Homo sapiens: one gene and its partner. The main gene of each other region encodes a partner of the protein of the gene in region 2 in a complex. Each region holds a gene or a part of one and is shown on either strand. Other genes may lie near its edges. The genes, in order: KRAS and RGL2.

Region 1 (3,825 bases), on a different chromosome or scaffold from region 2:
TTACCTATCATTATCCCAAACAGGCACTTCAAACTATTAAACTAAAACACAGATCTTAATCTAGTTATGACTATTCTTCAAGAACTCATGTGAGTATCTTTCTTTAGAAAGAAAGTTTCATTTTATGACAGCTATTCAGTTTCTCAATGCAGAATTCATGCTATCCAGTATTAACACAGAAGTTACTAAATATAAATTCAGCTTTAAGGTAACTGCTGGGTTCTAAAAAACATTACTACACAATTATCAAGAAATCATTACTTTTTGACAAATGGAAATCTTCAGATAGTTTTTGCTGTCTAAAAAAAAATCCCCTAAAAAAAGTTATATACTGTTTGAAGAAAAAATGTTTAGAAGAAAAAAAAAATCAATGGAATACAAATGAGATGAACTTGTGCAAACTGTAACTTAACATGCCCCACAAAGTTTCTATGTATATATTAGGACAAAATTGTGCAATGGTGACAACAGTTTTGATAACCTATAAAAGTTAGGTTCTAAATTCCTATGCAGTGTGACTCAGTTAAATAGAGCCTAGAATGCCTACTTGGGAACATTCACTCAAATGATACAATATACGTCTGCTATATTCTTCCACAAACATGTTAATGCCTAAGTCTATGTAATTTAGCTTTTTTTAAAAAAACTTCAACAAGGATTTTTGTCTTTAAGGCTGTAATAATTAGGTAACATTTATTTCTAGAATTCTCCCCCTTTAAAATCTCTACAAAAACAAATCTTTTGTTAAACCATTCAAAGTTCACATAAAGGTAATTAACCACTACCTTAAAAAAATGCCCATCTACATCAAAAATTCAAGAGGCCTAAATATCCCCTCATAAGCACTGCAGTTCCTGAAGTATGGCCATTTCTTTCTCTGTGTAGAAACGAGGTACTGTGTAAGTCTTAACACCCTACCTAAACAGTGTTCCAAAGATCTGTAGTTTCACATAGCAATTCAGAAATCATAGTGATTTTTACATAGAAGTTTCCTTGTCTGTGAACTAGTTCAGGCACCTGTTTATTTGTACCCAGATAAAACTATTAATTTTTAAGTATATTTTAATTACTTATGCAGAGAAAACTGGAATATTACACATTTGGGTCAATATGAATATCTGACATACACCTTAATGTGTACAGTAATTGTCCTAAAAGAATCACAGTTATGCCAAATAAAAAAACAATATAATCAAGTTTATTCCTTTAAAACAATGAAGTGATTTACATAAAGTAGCTTGATCGAAGAGTTTCAGTGGAATCGTAGCAAAACAATTATAGAGCTGGCACAGAGACCAAACCCCTTCTTTGCAAAACTAAAATACGCATCGTGTTATCTCTGGGTCGTATACCAAAGGCCTTAGTAAGATATTACAGACCACACTAGCACTACCTAAGGACCGGGATTATGTCTCTTGTTTGGGGATACCATATACCCAGTGCCTTGTGTGGTGACTGGCATCTGGTAGGCACTCAATAAATATTTGCTGAATAAATGAGTTCTGCAAAACAGGTTTATGAGGCCAAGGTGGGTGAATCACTTGAGGTCAGGAGTTCGAGACCAGCCTGGCCAACAGGGTGAAACCCCGTCTCTCCTAAAAATACAAAAATTAGTTGAGTGTAGTGGCACACGCCTGTAATCCCAGCTACTCAGGAGGCCGAGGCACGAGAATCGCTTGAACCTGGGAGATGGAGGTTGCAGTGAGCTGAGATGGCGCCACTGCATTCCAGCCTGGGTGACAAGAGCGAGACTCTGACACCAAAAAAAAAAAGTAAGCTTCATGAATTAAAGTATTTTTCATTGCATGAAGATTTCTGGTTACTAAAACAATGGAATGTATTACTGTTACCAGGAGTAGTCCTAGTTATAGATTACCTAAGGAATTCTTTCAGCACTATCTTTATTAAATTCTCCTTCCACTGGATAGGGTTCTGTCTATTCATACCAGGTTTGAAAAATCCTACTGTCGCTAATGGATTGGGCAGCAAAGAGATGTTCAAAGCATCAGCCACCACCTGAAAATTAGTGATTAGGTCAAATCCCTTTATGGTATCTGTCAGATTCTCTTGAGCCCTGAGGAAATAAGATGTAGGGCATTTCTGATGTGACTCAGTGGGAAAACTTCATGGAGATATCCACAGCAGCAGTAAATCTTATGGTTAGGGGAATTACAAGTATTAAAACTGCATCAAGTCATGGGGCATGTGGAAGGTAGGGAGGCAAGATGACACTAATATGGAAGAAGAGTCCTAAAACGAGAATGGATATTCAAATATAAACTTCACCTCTTGCACAATTTTGCCCAAGACTGGCACTGAAGATGGTGTAACATAGGTTAAAAATTTACAGATTGTGCTGAGCTTGACAAATAAGTGTATCCTTATGTAAATGGAATATAAATTACATAGTTGTAAAAAAAAAAAACTAAGAGTTTGAGATGACTTCTTTTAACATGAAGAAATGGATAGTAAGTGATGTCCTCAAAATCAGAGTCCTAAAAGACACCTATCTAGAACCTAAGTCACCTTCTTCCTAGTCCAGTGATACTTTCACCTCACCATGCCATCTCACTTCATTTATTTTAAAATAAGTAACATTTTAAATTTATCAAAAGGATTGTTTTTATTTTTATTTTAAAGCATTATTAAATATGGATCAGACTTGAAAAGTGTTTATGCAATGTTAATTTAACCAGTGTTAAGAGAACTAGCCAAACCTAGAGATTGTAAAACTTTTTCACTTCATTGTTTAAAAAAAAAATTAATGTCTTGGCACACCACCACCCCAAAATCTCAACTTTTGAGTTAATATTTAAAAGTAATTTTTAAAAAAGAGTTTGTTTTCTTAAGAAACAAAAGCAATGCTCTTGATTTGTCAGCAGGACCACCACAGAGTGAGATTGTATCTTGTTGAGCTATCCAAACTGCCCTAGTCCCTCCCCATTTTGACTAACCAATGCATGACAACACTGGATGACCGTGGGGACACAGTCCATGCTGTGAAACTCTCTATGAAAGCTCAAAGGTTCACACAGGGCCTGGCCTTGCAACCTTGGTCTCTTCAACACCTAATAAGCTATAACTGGCCCAAATAATCTTTTAATGTCACAAGCAGAATTAAAACTATCTTCAAAGACTCAAGTTGAAGAAAAGATTTAAAGTTATACTATGAAAGAGCAGTCTGACACAGGGAGACTACATTTAATTCCTATGAGAATTTTTTATACTTGTTAAAATCTTTTCAATTATTATAAAAATTTAGTAGCATGTAAATATAGCCCCAAAATGGTTGCTATAATAATCCCCATTTCATACTGGGTCTGCCTTAACAGGAAAAGCTATTAGGAGTCTTTATAGTAATTTATCTAATGTGAAAAGGAAATGGCCTTATAATAGTTTCCATTGCCTTGTAATTTTTTTCCATTTTTTTCTTTTTATAGAAAAAATATAATATTTTGGGGAGAGTGACCATGACTAATAGCAGTGGAAAGGAGACAAAACCTTTGTGAACAGTGTAACTTTACATTCATCAGGGATGACAAACTATAGGACATGATGCCTAGAAGAATCATCATCAGGAAGCCCATAAATTTGTGTTCCCTCAATGTTTCAGTAAAAACCAATTAGAAGGTCTCAACTGAAATTAGTAATTAATCCATTTATGTGACTAGATAAAACACAGAATAGGGATGATTCAAAAGCTTCATTAATTTGTTTCACACCAACATTCACAATTGGTAAGAAAAATAAGAAGTAATCAACTGCATGCACCAAAAGCCCCAAGACAGAAATCTTAGGTATTCAGTTTCTTTTTCACAGGCATTG
Region 2 (2,719 bases):
ATGCGGTGAGACCCTGACCTCTGGCCCCTATGCCCCCTGACCCCTTACTAACCTCTCCTTGACTCCAGATCCTTTCCTTGCTTCCACCCCTTCCTGATCCAGCTCCTAGCCTCCTCCACCTACCATTTTGATTCTCCCCTTTTCCCTTTGGTCGTTACCCTTCAAACCCTGTGCCCCTCTGGTTCCTTGGCCACCTGAGATCCTCAGATCCCTGATATTGGAAGGCTGACCTCACTTGACTATGAACTTTAACCTCTGACCTCTACCCTGCAGGAACTTTTTCTCAATTTGATCCCCTCTCAGTGCCTGGGAGGCCTGTGGGGTCACAGAGACCGGCCAGGACATTCTCACCTCTGCCCATCTGTCCGAGCTACTGTCACACAGTTTAACAAGGTGGCAGGGGCAGTGGTTAGTTCTGTCCTGGGGGCTACTTCCACTGGAGAGGGACCTGGGGAGGTGACCATACGGCCACTCCGTCCCCCACAGAGGGCCCGGCTCCTGGAGAAGTGGATCCGCGTGGCAGAGGTGAGAGAGAAGATTGCCCTACGGTTTGTGGCCATGGAATGGAGAGGCCTCCCATAGCCTTAGCTCTCTTCTTTGACCCCCACAGGAGTGCCGGCTGCTCCGAAACTTCTCTTCAGTTTATGCCGTGGTGTCAGCCCTGCAGTCCAGCCCCATCCACAGGCTTCGGGCAGCCTGGGGGGAAGCAACCAGGTGCGGAGGCTGAGGCATTGGACTGGGGTGGGGGTTCCTCAGAAGGCGGGGAAGAGGGGGTGACAGAGCCAGGCCTGTCCTCAGGGCCACTTTTCTCCCTTCCCCAGGGACAGCCTCAGAGTCTTTTCCAGCCTCTGCCAGATTTTCTCCGAGGAGGATAATTATTCCCAGAGTCGGGAGCTGCTCGTGCAGGTGAGAGCCTGGTTTGTGGCATTCCCACCTCTCCTTGTTCCCTACTGCTCCCCCATGTCTCTTTTATTTTGTCACCACCAGGAGGTGAAGCTGCAGTCTCCTCTGGAGCCACACTCCAAGAAGGCCCCGAGGTCTGGCTCCCGGGGTGGGGTGAGTGACTAGCGGGGTGGTGGGCGTGGGGGTGGTGATTATGAAGGGGTGAGGAGTATGTTTTGGGGGAGCAGCCTGAAGGATGGGTAAGGGAGGCACAGAGGGGTGAGGAGAATGAAATCTGTTCTCTGAGGCAATGAGGAGGGCAAGTGCGGAGGGATGGAGGGCCCTCACGTCAATGGCAGGCACTTCTGACCCTGACCCCTGACTTCAGGGTGTGGTCCCATACCTTGGCACCTTCCTGAAGGACCTTGTGATGCTGGATGCAGCCTCCAAGGATGAGTTGGAGGTCAGTGGTGTGTGTGTGTGTCATTGCAATGATGTAACAAGTGGGCTGCAGGGTCGGACAGACCCCCCCGCCCCTTGCAAGGGGCTGTAAGGCACAAATAGCTGAGTGTGGGACAGAGCCAGATCTGTTTCTGTGCCAAGTCGCCTCAGTGATCTGTAAATGGGAAACTAGAAATAGCATCTACATTGATCTGTTATAAGGGTTAAATGAATTTGTATTTGTCAAGTGCTTAGAACGTGCCTGAAACGTAAGCACATCTAGGTTTTGTGATGGGCTCCTGCTCTATTGCTAGAGTTTGTTAAATAAACAAATACTGAGACCTTGGACAAGTTCCTTATCCTCTCTGGATAAGGAATCCTGTCGAATTGGATACTATCCAGTCCTCTCATCTGCAAAGCAGACTCGTTGTCTACCTGAGAAATTCAATTTAAAGGGTCAAGTGGAGTGCTTAGGCCATGATAGATTGAGGAGGAAGGCAGGGAGGGATCGAAGAGTCAGAGAGGCTGGAGGGAAGTGGTTGTGAGTTGGATGTGGCTGTGTGTGTTTAAGAGAGGGGATATTCTCTCTCTGTGGCCGGAAGGTAGGGTTGGAACTTTCACCCCATCCCCATTTTCCTCGCAGAATGGATACATCAATTTTGACAAGCGGAGGAAGGTGAGCGGAGTGTCTGGGCTGGATGCTGGACTTCCCTATCCATGTTCCAGGAAGGGGAGGGGGAAAAGTCAGGGGTCCCTGAGTTTTGGCTCCTGCAGTTTGAGGGCTCCTTCCCAGGAGTTTGCAGTCCTTTCTGAGTTGCGACGGCTCCAGAATGAATGTCGTGGCTATAACCTCCAACCTGACCATGATATCCAGAGGTGGCTACAGGGGCTCCGGCCACTGACAGAGGCTCAGAGGTGACTGGCGGGTGAGGTTGGGACTCCAGGGTTCTGGCCAGGTGTGGGGGATTGGTGTCATGTCCTGAGCTCTGCCTATTGCCCCCCTAACCCAGCCATCGTGTATCCTGTGAGGTGGAGCCACCTGGTTCCAGTGACCCTCCTGCCCCACGGGTGCTTCGGCCAACATTGGTCATCTCGCAGTGGACAGAGTGAGAGATTCACTGGCTGGGGGGTGGTTTCTTGGGACTTCCACTTTTCTCTGATCCTCCCAATCTCCTGCCACTGCAGGGTTTTGGGCTCTGTTGGGGTCCCTACCCCGCTTGTGTCCTGTGACCGGCCCAGTACTGGGGGAGATGAGGCGCCTACAACTCCTGCTCCTCTGCTGACTCGGCTGGCCCAGGTGAGCTCTGCTCCTGACTCTGACCTTGACGCTGACCCTCACTCTGTAAATGTTTCTTCCTTAAACCTCCCTGCCTTCATGCCAGTCCCATGTTGTTTG

Evidence for each region.
Region 1: the proteins of RGL2 (region 2) and KRAS are in contact, whole or in part, in a crystal structure (PDB 8B69), measured with the Homo sapiens proteins. Residues at the interface, in NP_004752.1 of Homo sapiens: Ile651, Arg653, Glu660, Asp661, Gly662, Ser663, Val664, Tyr665, Lys666, Ser667, Ile668, Leu669, Lys685, Lys686, Asn688, Arg689; in NP_001356715.1 of Homo sapiens: Ile24, Gln25, His27, Val29, Glu31, Asp33, Pro34, Thr35, Ile36, Glu37, Asp38, Ser39, Tyr40, Arg41, Lys42, Tyr64.

What each region holds. Positions count from the first base shown.
Region 1 is NC_000012.12:25,205,755-25,209,579, forward strand, and holds part of KRAS (GTPase KRas), read right to left. Parts: 3' UTR 1-3,825. UniProt on the Homo sapiens protein: Ras proteins bind GDP/GTP and possess intrinsic GTPase activity. Plays an important role in the regulation of cell proliferation.
Region 2 is NC_000006.12:33,293,314-33,296,032, reverse strand, and holds part of RGL2 (ral guanine nucleotide dissociation stimulator-like 2), read left to right. Parts: coding exon 1-5; intron 6-273; coding exon 274-525; intron 526-610; coding exon 611-714; intron 715-821; coding exon 822-906; intron 907-987; coding exon 988-1,056; intron 1,057-1,270; coding exon 1,271-1,345; intron 1,346-1,966; coding exon 1,967-1,999; intron 2,000-2,097; coding exon of another isoform or gene 2,098-2,116; coding exon 2,117-2,238; intron 2,239-2,333; coding exon 2,334-2,429; intron 2,430-2,508; coding exon 2,509-2,620; intron 2,621-2,705; coding exon of another isoform or gene 2,706-2,719. UniProt on the Homo sapiens protein: Probable guanine nucleotide exchange factor. Putative effector of Ras and/or Rap. Associates with the GTP-bound form of Rap 1A and H-Ras in vitro.